Regions from separate parts of the Homo sapiens genome. Here region 2 is linked to region 1. Evidence: fine-mapped expression QTL. A gene starts in region 1. The other region holds a variant in brackets. All regions are shown on one strand. Distances are from middle to middle. Region 1 holds the start of KLHL42 (kelch like family member 42). Region 2 overlaps KLHL42 (kelch like family member 42).

The links.
Region 2: its variant is fine-mapped to the expression of KLHL42 in fibroblasts (GTEx, PIP 0.98).

Annotation. Positions count from the first base shown.
Region 1 is chr12:27,776,563-27,784,898 of GRCh38, reverse strand. KLHL42 (kelch like family member 42) reads right to left here and starts at 4,666. Exons shown (of 3, transcript NM_020782.2): 1 at 3,697-4,666. The coding sequence starts at 4,568. It overlaps MANSC4 (MANSC domain containing 4), which reads left to right and starts at 4,663. Exons shown (of 4, transcript NM_001146221.5): 1 at 4,663-4,689. RefSeq lists an enhancer at 4,150-4,649 and silencers at 4,515-4,824, 4,845-5,064, 7,497-7,697.
Region 2 is chr12:27,798,449-27,806,784 of GRCh38, reverse strand. It overlaps KLHL42 (kelch like family member 42), which reads right to left. Exons shown (of 3, transcript NM_020782.2): 3 at 3,745-8,336. It also overlaps the pseudogene RN7SKP15. Among named protein-coding and RNA genes, the nearest start is that of MANSC4, 22 kb to the right of the region's middle. RefSeq lists an enhancer at 1,701-1,870. The variant G/C (reference allele first, on the strand shown) is at 3,877.

The sequences.
Region 1 (8,336 bases):
GGAAACTGGCAAAGACCATTTACAAAAGAAATACAAATGGCCAACCAACATATAAAAAGAATAATCTCTCTTCTAATTGGGAAAAATCACACTAGTGTTTTTGCCCATTAGGTTTGGGGAAAAAAAGATGATAATATTCTATCTTGGCAAGAGTATAGGGAACTGGCAAGCACAAACACTTTTGATGGAAGAGGAAATCAGAACAATTTTTTTGATGGGCAATTTGGCGGGAGCAACCAAAATCTATTTATTTATTTATTTTTAACTGTTTATAGAGATGAGGTCTCACTATGTTGCTCAGGCTGGAGTGCAATGGCTATTCACGGGCCCGATGAGAGTGCACTGCAGCCTTCAGTTCCTGGGCTCAAGTGATCCTCCTGCCTAAGCCTCCCAAGTAGCTGGGACTACAAGCGTGAACCATTGCACCCAGCTTCAACAAAATTTAAAACATGCATACACAGCTGGGCGCGGTGGCTCACAACTTAATCCCAGCACTTTGGGAAGCCTAGGTGGGCGGATCACGAGGTCAGGAGATCGAGACCATGCTGGCTAACAAGGTGAAACCCCTTCTCTACTAAAAATACAAAAAAAAAAAAAATTAGCCAGGCGTGGTGGCGGGCACCTGTAGTCCCAGCTACTCGGGAAACTGAGGCAGGAGAATGGCGTAACCTGGGAGGCGGAGCTTGCAGTGAGCCGAGATCGCGTCACTGTACTCCAGCCTGGGCAACAGAACGAGACTCCGTCCCCAAAAAAAAAAAACAAAAACAAAAAAAAAAAACACATACACTTTGCCCTACCTATCCAGGGATTCCACGAATTTGACATATGAAACTAACTCACATATGGCTACTAAGATACATGCACGCATCTACCAGGATGTTCAATGGCAGTGCTTATTGAAACATCCAATGCAAATGGAAGTGACCTAAATGTCCATAAATAAGGGAAGGGCTAATTACATTATGGTACATCCATAGGCTGGAATGCCACGCAGCCATTAAAAAGCGTGAGGTAAGGCCGGGCGCGGTGGCTCACGCCTGTAATCCCAGCACTTTGGGAGGCTGAGGCGGGCGGATCACGAGGTCAGGAGATCGAGACCATCCTGTCTAACACAGTGAAACCCCGTCTCTACTAAAAATACAAAAAAAAATTAGCCGGGTGTGGTAGCGGGCGCCTGTAGTCCCAGCTCCTCGGGAGGCTGAGGCAGGAGAATGGCGTGAACCCGGGAGGCGGAGCTTGCAGTGAGCCGAGATCCCGCCACTGCACTCCAGCCTGGGCGACAGAGCGAGACTCCGTCTCAAAAAAAATAAAAAAATAAAAAAGCATAAGGTAGATCTACATTTGTTGACACAGAAAAAAAACTCTCAGATATGGTTAAATGGAAATATCAAGTGCCATAATAATTAGTACAACCTAGACAATTTCAGAATTTTTAAAATGTGTAAGGTGATACACCCCCGTGCACATTAATATACATAAACACTTTTCCCCTATTGTTAACCACTATCAATATACTTATACAGCTGATCCTTTAATAACACGGGTTTGAACTGTGAGGGTCCACTTACATTCAGATTTTCTTCTGCCTCTGCCACCCCGAGACTGCAAAACCAACCCTTCCTCTACCTCCTTTTCCTCCTCAGCCTACTCAGCGTCAAGATGATAAGGATGATCCACTTCCGCTTAATTTTCTCTTCCTTAGTTTATTAATAACATTTTCTTTTCTATAGCATACTTTATTGTTAGAATAAAGTATATACTACATATACAAAATGTATTAATTGATTATGTTATTGGTAAGGCATCTGGTAAACAGTAGGCTATTCAGTAGTTAAGTTTTTGGGAGAGTCAAAAGTTATATGGGGATTTTTGACTGTGCAGGGTTTGGTGTCCCTGGCCCCCACATTGTTTAAGGGTTAACTGTATTTATACAAGTATACATATAATTTACAGTATAAATGTTTATACATTTATAATATCTAAAGGTAACAAAAGTCTGTTGATACACTGACACTTTTTTTCTGTACCCTGAGGGCAGACATTTACTCTTTTTACTCCACAGTTTTGTGTGTAATTTGCAGTTTTTCTAAGAATCATGCATTCATGCATTACTTGAATGCTTTTTTTTTTTTTAAGGGGATGAAAAGGGCCTTCCTAGAAAAAAAGACAAAGACTACCAAGGATGTATGAAGGGAAGAAAGAAGTGTGAGGAACTGTGGCACTAAGGATGGCCTGGTGAGCACCAAATGATGTGTAGCTAGAGGAATGCAAGAGGAGTGAGAGAACTCAGGGCCGCCCACCCCTAATCAGACCACCACCCATGGCCACACAATGTTCCTTTGTTGTTTCAATTACAGTGCATAGAATTTGTTTTAAAATAACACTTCTGATACCAAATTTTAAATATGGTATCATCTCAATGGTGTAAATAATGCATTAAAAATGGGCTGGCAGGAAATATGCCAACCTGGTTACTGCCTCTAGGAAGAGCGGGTAGGAATAATCATCTTTTTGCTTCTTCATTCTTTTCCATTTTCCAGTTTTCTGTAACTATGTATTATCAGGGGAAAAAGCATACTTTTCAAAATGAATTTCATATTATAGGAGAAATAAAGCCAGTTATTTCCCCCAAATAATCCCTGGCCGAGGAGGACCCTCGAGTCAAATAAACAGATATATAAAGGATTCTCTGTTACTGTTAAGACTTTCTTTGCCCAGCTGTGAGCTCCCCAACTCCTTGCTCCACACTTCAGGACCAGGACCCTGTGAGGATTGAGATGGAAACACGTGGATGGGAAGAAAGGGTATTTTCATCCTTTCTTGAGTTACATTGATTCTTTTCCCTGCTTCTGAATGACGCTGAGGCCTCCTAGGCGCTACCATCTTTATTTCCTACCATCTCTTCCTGTATATGCTCTTTGCTCTTGTTTTGATATTCCTTCCCTGGTTCCTTTCCCTTCTCCCCTCTCATCCCACTCCTCAAGCTCCTCCTCTTCCTTTCTTCAAGTCACCCTTGTTGGAGGCAGGAGAGATTTGCAGGATGGGAGGGGGAGAAGGTTGCGTAAATGAAAATATTCCAATTCTGTAGTTGAACACTTCCAGGCTCAAGCTGTGGGTCATGACGATGGCTGTCCAGGGAAGGAAGCAAAAGAGAGGATAAAAAATAAGAAAAGCAACCCCTATTGCAAACGTTAATACATTTCCAGTGATTATCTCTTGATCATGATGGGTATCACAGTGTGGAAGACTCTGTTGTCACAGTCACTGACATCAGAAAAAAATCCCCCAAAGTCAGTGTTACAGGTTACTGTCCAGTGTATCATTATCATCAGGATCAAATCCTAAAAACTAAGACAAATTTTTTAAAAATTAAGGGGCAATTTTCTTTTAAAGTATTCTTGTAGGAAACCACAACATCTTTTTTCACAAGAACAGAGGCAAAGAAAGCAGTTTCACCTAAAGGCACAATACCTGCCAAAAAACCACTCCACTTCTTGACCTCACTGGGGACGTCCTCTTCGCAATTTCTTAGTTCATTGGGAATTTTGCCAGCGCCAAGGCCAACAACATTCCTGAAGATGTCATTTCCACCACAGCACACCCTCCCCTATTTACTGGCTCAGTAAACACTGGGGTAATGAACTAATGAACAAGTGAATGAATGAGAAGGCAGCAGCACTCTGCCGGGGTGCTTACCTCTTCTGGTTCATGGAGGCCACCTGGAGCCACTCGTTGGTGCTGGGGTTGTAGGAATGCGCAGCGGAGATCTCCTGGCTAGTGATCCTGTACCCGCCCACTATGAAGAGGTAGTTGTCCAGGATGGCAGACCCATAGCCCCTGACATTGACCAGGTCGGGAGGAAGGTTGTTGGCCAGCGGGAACCAACGCTCAGTCATCTCCTCGTACCTGAGCATGGACGGGGGCTCCCCCTGGTAGGGGTGAGGGGCCAGGGGTCCCCCCAGGAAGTCCCCGAGGGCCACGAGGACAGGAGTCCCAGTCATCCGGGCCTCCCTCAGCCTCTGCTTCAGGCTGACATCCCCTGGAGCTTGGGGAGGAGACCCCAGGAGGTGGAACTGGGGCTTGCACAGCACCTCGTGGAAGTGGACGACCATGAAGCGCAGGCAGGCCTCCTGCAGGTCGGGCAGCCCGTACACCTGCGCCAGGCGGTACATCTCCAGGCAGTTATTGAGCCGCACCTGGGACAGCAGCAGCTGCAGCAGGGACGTGACCTGCAGGAAGGAGGCCGCCTCCACCAGCTCGGACAGCAGGCTCACCTCATCCATCTCCTCGTCCTCGTCCACCCCGCCGCCCTTTTCCCCGCGCGGGCCCAGGAGCCAGCCTTCGCGGGCCCCGCCGGCGTTGATGAAGTCCAGCACCAGCCGCAGGCCCGGCGCGCTGAGGCCGCGCAGCTGCTGCACCTCCGGGCCGCCGGCCTCCTGGCTCAGGGCCTCGCGCATGCCGGAGCGGTAGAGGGCGCGGAAGTAGTCGCTCTGCTCGATGAGCTTCCTCTTGCTCACCGGGTAGCAGCGGTCCTCCAGGCGGATCTGCACCATCTCCTCGGCCGACATGGCTGGGGGCCCCGGGGCGGCAGCGCTCACCGCCAGATCTGCGCGCCGGCCTCCCAGCCCCTACGCGCGCGCCGGTTCCGGGCGGGGCGCCGAGGGATGGCGGCCCGGGAGGAGCGGCGAGGTGAGGGCCGCCCGCGCTCGCCCGGCCTCTCCGGCGGCCCCTCCTCCCGGGGCCCGCTCCCGCGAGGCGGCGGCCCTGCCCTTCTCCTTTCCCTCAGCGCCAAAAAAGGGCCGGCGGAGCGCGGCGGGCGTCCTCGCGCGGGCTCTCCCGGGCGGCGCCAGGCGGGAAGGGAATTCCAGCTCCCAGCCAGCAGCCTCCTCCCCCGCCGCCCTTCTCACTTCCGCCCGCGGGACCCCAGCCGCCGGCCTGACCTGCCGGCTGGATCCGGCTCTCGGGGAGGCCCGGGAAGCTGCGGGCCCGGGCGCCTCGGCTGCGGACGCGCAGCTGCGGGAGGCGGAGGGCGCGCGTCCCCGCAGCCTCTCCGCCCGCCCGGGGCGCGCCGGCTCCGCCGCTTGTTGGGGGCTGCAGTGATGCTCCGGGGTACCCCAGGGAGAAGAAATTCGTTTTCTCTCCCACGCTGCTTTACACGGGCTAAAGAAAAAGAAATGAGCGTGGGAGGAAAGGGAAGGATGGAGTCTCTGGTCCAGGGAGACAAAAAGGCATCAAATATGGGGTCGTCCTTCTGGCCCAGTCCGGCATCGAGTGTCAGTGGGCTGAGGCACGCAGGCGATCTATGGACAGTTGGTGGCAATGTTGGTGGCACGTAGAGCTGATTCTCTGGTAGCGTGGTCGCGTAGGAGCCATCTTACAGGAGGTCCAGGCAGATGGCAGCAGGTTCTCAGAGGAATCGGGTTGGGAGGCAGGGGAGCTTGCATTTGCCACTGGGGCCCCTTATTCTCCCTAAGTTATTAAAAGAAAGATGAAAGCGCAGCCCGACTAAATAAAGTTACATCACGTGGCTTCTGGTTTTAAACCATGTTTTCTATGAGCCATTGCTTTTCTACTTCAGTCCAGTCCATTACGGAATGTTATCCTGGCGCAAAAGATCTGACAAAATTGGCTCATAAATGTCTGCAAGAAGTAGCTTTTCTTGTCACCCCCTTTCTCCACCTACCCTGCCCCCATCATCTGAGGACTATTAAGAGAGACCACACGTGCGGTTTGGCTGAGCGCGGTGGCTCACGCCTGTAATCCCATGACTTTGGGAAGCCCAGGTGGGCAGATCACGAGGTCAGGAGTTCGAGAGCACCATGGCCAACATGGTGAAACCCCGTCTCTACTAAAAATACAAAAATTAGCCGGGCGTGGTGGCACGCGCCTGTGATCCCAGCTACTCGGGAGGCTGAGGCAGGAGAATTGCTGGAACCCGGGAGGCGGAGGTTGCAGTGAGCCGAGATCGCGCCACTGCACTCCAGCCTGGGCGACAGAGCGAGACGCCGTCTCGGAAAAGAGAGACCACTTGTTTCCTATGTTCTCTCACTGAACATTGCAATTAGAAGGCCCACCCCAAATAATAATAGGAAGGACTTTTTGTCTTGCTAATGAATTCATCCCAGGAAGGGGGTGGGGGGAGAAATATATTGTTTGGATTATCTTTGGGTAGGAGAAGGGAGAAGGATTGGGAGGAAGCAGAGGGTGTGTTCACTCTTATCTTACAAAACAAAAACAGAAAACCTTGAAAACTTACCCCAAACCAAGATTTGAGAACCACCTATGATAAACAGTCCTTAACTTGGAGAGAATATGTGTTTGGTTTTTTTTTTTATTATTACAAGCTTCAGCTTTCTTCTTGAATGACAGATTGTTAAATAATATCTTCTTCATAAGTACATTTCCCCTATTTAAAGAAGATACATCCTACCATGCTAACATTTTACCTTAGGAAGGAGAAAGGGTTAAAAACCAGAGAACTAAAAGAAAGTCAAAGGTGAAACATGAGATCCTTTCAACATAGTTTGGTTACATTTGTGGTTCTTACTACGAAATTTATCTGCTTCACAGAGAGGTGTTGTTGTCATCTTTTACTTTGTTTATTATTATTACTTGGGAAAGGAGGTTTATCTTTTTATTTTTTAGAAAAAAAAATGCATTTTTTTTTTTTTTTGAGACAGAGTTTCCCTCTTGTTGCCCAGGCTGGAGTGCAATGCTGCGATCTCAGCTTTCTGCAACCTCCACCTCCCGGGTTCAAGTGATTCTCCTGCCTCAGCCTCCGGAGTAGCTGGGATTCCAGGCATGAGCCACCACACCCGGCTAATTTTGTATTTTTAGTAGAGACGGGGTTTCACCATGTTGGTCAGGCTGGTCTGGAACTCCCGACCTCACGTGATCCACCCACCTCGGCCTCCCAAAGTGCTGGGATTACAGGCATGAGCCTCCATGCCCAGCAAAAAAAAATGCATTTTTTTTTTCCATAGAGATAGGGTCTTGCTACCTTGCCCAAGACAGACCTCAAACTCCTGGCCCCAAGGGATCCTGCCACCCCAAGTGATCCTGCTGCCTTGGTCTCTCAAAGCACTACTGTGCCTGGCCTATTTTCTTTATAATAATGCTAGGAATAAGGAACTAAAAAATAAAAGACATAGAAAATGTTCTAGTAGATTCTGGCCTCCCTGGAAAAAAATGAAGGAAATAAAAATGGATCTATGACTTACTCAGTTGTTTTCTTGGATTCTATAAAAAACATTCATCTCTTCACCTTGTTTCACCTGGCCTTTAAATCGTTACTGATAAAACTCCATTTTCACATCAACCCTTCACACTTCCATTCTCTATGAGGGTGCAGTGAGACACGATAAGCTTTGGAGCAGGAGGTGGAGTGAGTGATCAAGCATTTAGCAGCTTCTTTGGGATGGTAGAGTGTAACATCCAGTATTAAGCATCAGGCTGGGGAATTTTGCTGGGATGCGTCCCCTGTATCAAAGAGACTTGGACCTACGATTTTTCTATGCCTCAACCGGCAACAATGCCAGATTCAGTGGGTCAGCCACAAAGAACAGGCTCTCAGTCTCTCCTCTGTCTCTTGAATCTTTCACCAATGGATGCTTTTGTTTCCCAGCCGTCATAGATATGCCTCAGACTGGTATTTTCTTGCCTTTTTAAAACAGACCAAAAAAATCATGCTCAAAGAATGATGTGCATTAGAAAGGCAATTCAAGCACAGTAACATTATCAGGGTAAGATGAGGTTGGACAGGGAGTCTGGGGTATTAGTCTCACAATACTGGGCATTGATCTTGTGAGTTTTTTTGGCTCCCAATATGATAATAACATTATTTAGGATTGGGAGCATCTTAAATGATCAAATCATTTTAATAAATTATGCAGTAAGTTTTCTGTTAAGCTAGAAATGCAAAGTCAGAGCAATATAAACTCCTTTATTTTAAAAAGACCTAAAATTATTCCTAGTCTTCCTGAAAATATTGCTTTATATAACTGGAGGTATAATTTTATAGATCTGTTATTGACTGATCATTGAATAATAAAAACCAGTTTTGTGGTACTATCTGTAAAACAGTTTTACAGAAGCGTAATGGTCAAATAGAGTTAGGTAATTTTTATTTTTTATTTTTTATTTTTTTAGACAGGGTCTCACTCTGCCATTCAGGCTGGAGTGTGGTGGCACTATTATGGCTCAATGAAGCCTCCCAGGTTCAAGTGCTCCTCCCAGAGGCCTCCCAGGTTCAAGTGCTCCTCCCACCTCAGCCTCCCAAGTAGCTGAGAATACAGGCCTGCGCCACTATGCCCGGTTAATTCTTACATTTTCTGTGG
Region 2 (8,336 bases), 22 kb before region 1:
AGAAAACACTTTTTTCCTATAAGGAAATTTTAGGGCTACATAAACCAGAAACCTATATATTTTCAGAAAACCCAAGGAGGCTTCAAAACCTTTCCAATTTAACAAATACTTCCAGAATCTGCTGTGTTACATGGCTCTGGTGTATGTCCTGACATAGAGTGATAAAAAGATTAATGAAACACTCTATCATCAAGGAAACTACAGTCTAGAAGAGGAATAAGACAAGCACATAAGAACTGTTCTATGAGACAAATATGTGTGCCCTGAGAGAGAGATAGCTGAAGCTGTATCCAGGAACAAGTATTTTCAGAAGGCTTATCTTCCATAACACTGTAAACCAACCAGCTAGCTCACTTACCAAGACTAACAGCTTCCCCATCAAGGCTAGCTTAGGGGATGTGAGGGTGATCTGCCTGTGACAACTCTCACCCCACTGATCGCCAGGGTTGATTCGACTGATCTGGCTGGCTAGATGGGTGACCCCTTCCTCCCTCACTGCTCCATGTGCGTCCCTCCCGAAACTCCACGCTCAGTCGAAGAGGACAACCATCCCCAATAGAGGAGGACCAGTCTTGGGTCAAGGGTGTATGAGTAGCTGCGCTCCCCTGCTGGAACCTCCAAACAAGCTCCCAAGATTAGCTTTGGGACTCTCACTGCATTGTGCCCACAAAGTCCTATGCCCAAAGTTCTTGTATCAGAAACTCTGCCCAGTGTTGAGACCTACTTCAAAATCACCCAGCCCAGGCCCCAAAACCTGACATTCCCCTTCTGAGGCACTACTAATTCTTTTTCAAGGTGGTGTCCTCCCTGACCACAGTAAGCATAACAAACTTGGCTTTGCTTGACCAACAGGTTATCTAGCTGTTCCTTTTGCAAGTCAAGAGTCAACACCCCTTTCTTCTAGTAAGCAGACCCCTATTATCTGAGATGACTTCATTCCACGTGGTTGAACTGGAGATTCTCCTCCATGCCCCTGGCCACAGTGGTTACCTCAGAAATGGACACATTACCTGGGCTGGTTCAAACAAGTCTTAATAAAGCGTTTGGTACTTAGGATGGGATGTTGCAAATATCTAAAGCTGAAATATGGAGCCAGCTAAAGCAAGGGAAGGGATGGGGTAGATAGAATCTTCTCATCCCTGACCTTATGTGGAAAGCAAACAACTAATTATGCTGCTGTCTCTTGGGCCTCAGACCACTCAAGTTGGCTCCTTTAGGAGAAGTGAAAGACTTGTACCAGGATCTGGAATTTGTTAGCTACGTCTTAATGGCTTTGCTAAGATATTTTAGGAAAGGCATAAGCTTCCAGCCAAGCTGGCCCATTTGAAGGTATAAAGGAAACAGCTTTGGTAATAATAACAACAGCTCACATTCATTGTGTGTTATGTGCCAGATGCCATTCTGAACACATCACATGAATTTTCTCATACAATTTTTTGCAACAGTTTCACAGGGTGGATACTATTGTTATCCCTACTTTACAGATAAAGAAACTGAGGCCTGGGGAGACAAAGTAGCCTAACCAAAGCTACAGCTAGAAAGTAGCAGAATTGCCAGGCGCAGTGGCTCACGCCTGTAATCCCAGCACTTTGGGAGGCCAAGGCGGGTGGATCACGAGGTCAGGAGTTTCAGACTAGCCAGTTCGAGATCAGCCTGGCCAACATGGTGAAACCCCATCTCTACTAAAAATACAAAAATTAGATGGGCGTGGTGGCACACGCCTGTAATCCTAGCTACTTGGAAGGCTGAGGCAGGAGAATCACTTGAACCCAGGAGGCGGAGGTTGCAGTGAACTGAGATCGCACCACTGCACCCCAGCCTGGGCAACAGAGCAAGACTCCGTCTCGGGAAAAAAAAAGAAAGAAAAAAGAAAGACAGTAGCAGAATTAGGAAGCAAAGTCTTGCTCTAGAGTCCATGCCTTTCACCCTTTTGCCTACAGGCAGCAGACTGCAGAGGATCAAACATGTGCCTGGCAGAACTATAGGAGCCAGGTTCTCTGCCTTAGTTAAAGGGGCATGAACAGCCAGAAATATAGTAAGATCGGGCTCCCGGAGGAGGCAAACTAATAGAGTGGGGGCCCTGGCGCAGTGGTTCACATCTGTAAATCGCAGCACTTTGGGAGGCCGAGGTGGGAGAATCGTTTTCTGAGACCAACCTAAGCAACATAGCGGGACCGCATCTCTATAAAAATTTTTTTTAAAAAAATTTTTAATTAGCTGGGTGTGGTGGCACATGCCTGTGGTCCCAGCTACTCAGGAGGCTGAGGTGGGAAGATCACTTGAGCCCAGGTGGCCGAGGATGCAGTGAGCTGAGATCGTGCCACTGCACTCCAGCCTGGGTGACAGAGCAAGACCCTGTCTCCAAAAATAGAGAAGGAGGAGGAGGAAAAGGAGGAGAAGGAGAAAAAGAGGAAGAAGAAGAAGAGGAAATAGGGTGGGTATTTTATTCCCCAAACACCTCCTGCCACACAGAGGTAATCATTTCTACTAATGCTGCAGTCCCTGGGATGTAGTCTGGGAACGGCAGACCCCTATGGTTTCAGATTATCCCAAAGCTAAGAGAGAGATTGACGCCATCAAACTGAAGGTGGAGGCATGGGCAGGAAGCCTGTGGCTAAGAGACAGACATCATAAAGATGGGCTCTAAGTTAAAGAAACTGGGCTCCTCTAAATCTGGGCCTTTATCCTATGGAGTTGCCGGAGATCAGATTTACCAGCATCTGAGTTTTTATTTATTTATTTTTTTAATAGAGACAGGGTCTCATTGTATTGCCCAGGCTGTCCTTGAACTCCTGGGCTCAAGCAATCCTTCCACCTCAGCCTCCCAAAGTGCTGGGATTATAGGTGTGAGCCACCGTGCCCAGCCTCAAATGGGTTTTTAAAGTTTTATTGCCAAGGAAATGTTGATGGCCTACAAACAGGAGCCTAGGATCCCTGGCCTCAACAGAAGTGTTCAGGTGCCCCTCCACACACCTCCTGTAACCATGCCCACAGGAAGAGGCTGCCACTTCACCCCCAGGCAGGTCAGCCATGGAACGCGCTGCTGCAAAGCAGGACCAGAGGCTCCCAGACTGGCTCACTCGGAAACCCACTCCTCCACTAGCAAGAGAAAGGATACCCTTTAAACCAGTGACCACTGTATGTAGTTTTCCCTTCTCCTCTTTCTCAAGTGGCAATTTGTAACCTACAGTGCCTCAGTTTCCTCAACTGTAAAGCGGAGGATATTTGTATTTACCACATGGGATTCATGTGAGGATTAAATAATTTAAATAAAAAATGCTTAGAATAATTCCTGGGAAAAAAAAAAGTGCTCAGTTAGATTTGGGTGTCGCTCTGCTAGGTCAGCCATCCTCCTTCTCCTCCATCAGTGTGTCCTGAGTGTGTAGAAAATGGTTGTCCATTTATTTCATTTTTCTTGAGTTGGGGTCTTGCACTGTCTGCCCAGGCTGGAGTGCAGTGGTGCAATCAGATCTCACTGCAGCCCCAAACTCCTGGGCCCAAGCAATCCTCCTGCCTCAGCCTCCCAAGTAGCTGGGACTAGAGGCATGCACCACTGTATCGGCTAATTTCTTTTATTTCTATTTTTTGTAGAGACAGGATTTCACTGTTGCCCAGGCTGGTCTCAAATTCCTGGCCCCAAGCAATCCTCCCACCTCAGGCTCCCAAGTCACTTCACCCATTTCCTCCCAGTCCTGGCACAGCCCTGCATACGTAACTGATACATAGAACTTAGATAACAAAAAGTGACTGAAAACTACTTTATTTGAAGACATTTTCTTCTATAGTTCTAAACACAAAAGGAATGCTGTTATAGTGGGTATTTCATAGGCATTCTTGTATTCAAATGAATCACATAATGTTTACACTTTTAAGCTA[G/C]ACTTGAAATTGAAGACTTAATACAACCTTTTAACAAAGAAAGTATCAGTCATATCAAAACATAACTATTCATTCTACAGATTATCACTTTCCCTAAAATGACTACTAGATATGAAAACATTGCAGGGACAGCTCAAGTGCCCCATTCTTAAGGGTTTTTTTTAATAGGAAAAATGACAACGTAAATCACATTTTCCTTTTCTTTACTAGTAATGAACTATGGCAATCCATTTGAGAAAGCACCAGCCAACCGTACAAGTCATTTCAGCACCCTTTGCTCTTCAAAACTGACCATCTTTTATATTTAATGCTTCCTGTATGAATAAAAATGGTTATGTCAAGTACAGACGTCAGCAACGTGTCAGTTGGTGTGAATTTATGATGTGTTCCTAAGTCAACAGAGAAAATAAAAAAAATCTCTCATGTGAATAAAATCTAAGGATGAAAAACTATCCTTTGATAATTATCACAAGGCAAAATCAACCACCTTTTCATCAGTACTAGTGTGGAATGGAAATTTCTTTATTAATACTTTTTATGGGAATGTTTTAAAGGCATAGGTATAAATGCACATGCAATCAGCTTGCCCCTCTTAGATACTAACTTCCCCAGCTTCACTCCTCCTTTTCACTGGAACAAGCTGCTGAATCCCTAACTCCAAAGTCTGCAGTGCTTGGTGAGCATTTTTAAATAAAGATTATATGTGATTTTCACTTTTTCACAAAAATGAAGTACAGAGAAGACTGAAAAGCAGTGAGAAAAAAATCATAGAGCAAAAAACTAAAACACAAGATGTGATGTTCAAATTTAAAAGAAAAACAAAACTGGTTCGTGATGATTGTTAGTAAATCACAAAAACAAAGGACGGACAGGGCCAAGACCGAAGGGACCACCAGACCACCGAGCCCCAATGTGCCAGACAAAAGTGGGCATCTTTGAGAAGGACGCCCTGGTGAAGACAATTACAGTGAACCTCTTTATAAGGCCGTAAGCTCTTCAAGGTCATGGGCCGTGACTTATTTATGTCTGTATTCTGTTCTTAGCATTGTCTTGCACATGACAGACACTCAGTATTTCTGGTAACCACAGAACTGGAGCTCAATCAGCTCACTGCTTTCAAAGTCATTTTGGTTGGTGTCTACCCACTTAATTCTTTCACTCCTCTGTCTAAGGCAGGGATGGCAAATAGCCTTCATTTCACTCTGATGGACTGGGAATAGATGTCTGGAAGCACCAATCTGACATGGATTCTAAGACCAAATCCTGGCACAGAGGACAGGAATGCTGCACTCATTCATAATGCCTCCTTAAAAGAGCGGTGGCACAGGTGTTATATATTCCCCATTCCTGGTCTAGGAAAAAGGCATCCAACACCTACTTATATTCCTTTTACATTGCTATGCTGCCTCTTGAGTGATCTGCATTAAGCCACTGTTCGTTAAATGCTGGTTGATCAGGAAGACCAAGGCCTTTCCTCTCAATTTACGTCTTTGGCCAAACAGGTAGGGTCAGAACTTCACCTGGAAATCTGAAAACACATCATCCACAATGCTCAATAGGCAACAGTCCATTGAAAGAGAACAGGTATTTACTTGATTACTCCCTTTGTAGAGAAAGAATTTTGCCCATCTCAATGGTGTGTAGCTTTCATTGATATCTAAGGCATTTGGAATTACTTAGGATCTTGGTGTTAAAAAAAAAAAAATGGCAGGGTTAAATTCTCTTTGGTTCTCATTCTAATCTTAAGACTTCTGTTTGTTTCTTCCTGGTACCCATAACCTTCTCAGCACTTCGTCGTTGTGACTTAACCAATACTGTTGAAATAATCAACTCTTTCACACATTCATCAGAAAACCTTTTAAAGGATGCTAAGGGGAGAGGCCTCTGAAAATAAGTGGGTTGAAAGGAAAGCCAGAGAGAATAACAGGAAGAACCAACCTTCTAACAACCCACACACAGGACTCTCTACCATTCAGACTGCTATCTATAAAATAGGGTGCTTCTGGTCGGGGGGCTGCCACCCCAGGTCCTCCAAGCAACCCTTTTCCCCATAGTGGGAGGTCAGCATCCCTCAGAAGCATCTCAGGAAAAAATGATAAAGCATTTAGAGAATTGGGAAGAAAATAGAGGGATACTATCAAAGAGTAAAGGACAGTCCTGGGGGATGAAGGGGGATTTTCTTTTTTCTTTTTTTTTTTTTGGAGACAGAGTCTTGCACTGTCGCCCAGGCTGGAGTGCAATGGCACAATCTCGGCTCACTGCAACCTCCGCCTGAAGGGAGATTTTCAAAGCAACATTGCCTCTATCATAGGTAGTCTTCAATGTAATACTGGCACCAACAAGAGAACCGAGCTAAATTAAAACTACCCTCAAAATGTCATCACAGCTGATGTGCACAGCAGGAAGGACGATGTCACAAAATGCACAGATCTGTTCCTATTGCACATTCCACCTTTCCCACGTACTGCTGGCAGCCCAGAATAACCAAAATCTTTTTAGATGTCTGTCTTAAAGAGAGCTATAATATGCAAACATACACACACACACACACACACACCCCCACACACACACACAACCTCAAACCTGGTTTATAAAAGAGCTTTGTGGATCAGAGTACACCCTCACTTGGTCCAAGAATCTAATTGTCAACATTAGGCAAATAGACCCAATGAATGTAACCAGGAAGAGAATTAACTGGTTGGCTGGAATATTGTATTTGATATGATATGCTTATTTGCAAACTAATCTCCAACTGTTTGTCCAGTACTAATTCAACTGACTCATCTTCTAAATGTATAGGACAAAGCCTTTAAAAAGTTAAGCTCTTCAGCAACGAAAAGTTAACACCATCTAAAATAAATAGATTTTAAAATATATGTAATGAAATTACAGGTCACTGGAAATTCAATTCTACAATGAATATAAATTAACATTAAAATCTATTAAGTACTATTCCTGGGAAGATTTTGGTTCAGAGGTTTTATTTTTTTAAGGGCTTAATATTTGGGAATAAATGGGCATAGCTTAGAAACCCTTACAAAGTTGTAAGTAGACTAGAGGTAAGATTATTTGGTGACAAGATACAAAGATCTGTTTCTATGTCCAAAATAATGGCTTACCTCATTTTAGTTAATAGAAGTATTCCCAAAAAGTTGTGCAAATAGGCTTTTTATAACTGGACGCTTATTTTAAGTATACTAGAGGCCATGGTTGTAAAGAAAACCTGTAGTCACTCCTCTAATAAACTGAAGAACTCTAAGTGATTAGCCCCTGTCCTACATCTGCACAGTGGACGGCATACTCCAGGCACTCATAAGTGTTTGTTGAATGCATGAATTCGCTCTGACAGTTTTTTTTTTCCCCTACAGGACTTTCTTAAAGTGAGGCACATGCTAACTGAAATGGTTCTGCCCGCTGTTACTGCAGAAAGATGGAATCCAGCTCACAGTTTAACTGATGCCATTACAAAATATCAGATAATTTCAGAGTGTTTTCAATCAAAATAAAATTTCCATAAGTATGAGTGTATGTATTTTTGAGGAATGTTGATCTATGATTGGCAGAAGCTTTTATTGTTAACTCACTCACTGAAAACAACTGCTTGAGCTGAATTCTATTTCAATTAACAACCAAGGCAAGTAAAGCACTTTACCTAACTTCAGAAATACCACCAGAAACCATTCCACTTCTGTAACAGCTTCTTCCCCTCACTCCAGCACAAATATTTAAATGCTGTCCTTACCTTAGTCCACAAAAGCAAAACATGAATTACAAAGCTAAGATTAAATTAGAAAGCTGCCGACTTAAATATGACAAAGTTTTTTTAGCCTTAAAATAAGAACTAAGTCAAATACATTCAACAAAAGTAACTCTTAAAGGCAAATTTTTTTCTTATTTGGTGTTTTCTTCCCTTCCCATTTAAATTTAAGACTCAATTTTTAATAATATTCATATGTCCATTTTTCTAAATAATATATCCTCTTTAAAACAATACAGAATGCCTAGCAGTGCAACCTATGTGTCCACATAAATATGCAACCTGCCACATAAATAAAATAAGAGGTTTTATCAGTCTATTTATCCAGCATTTGTAACTGCAAAAAAGGCTGGAAAAATAGCTAAGAATATTTTTATGCAAGTTTTGGGGAGGACTGAACACTGGTAAGGATTCACTGTAGGGCTCCATCATTATAAGTTTCCTAAAAAGTAGTGTGCAAACAAAATATCTGAACACAGAACCCTAAACATACTAGATGTATGTGTGGGTATGGGTGATGGAGAAGAGAGAATGAATATGTTAATATGAATGCTTGTCAAGGACACTGATAAGAAAAAGAAAACCTCTCACTTAAGGTGCTAATGATATGTCAAGGGACCTAAATACAACAGATTTTAAAATCATCTTTACCATTTGTCCCAATTATTGACTTTGGCCCTTTACCACACAGACACAATGAATC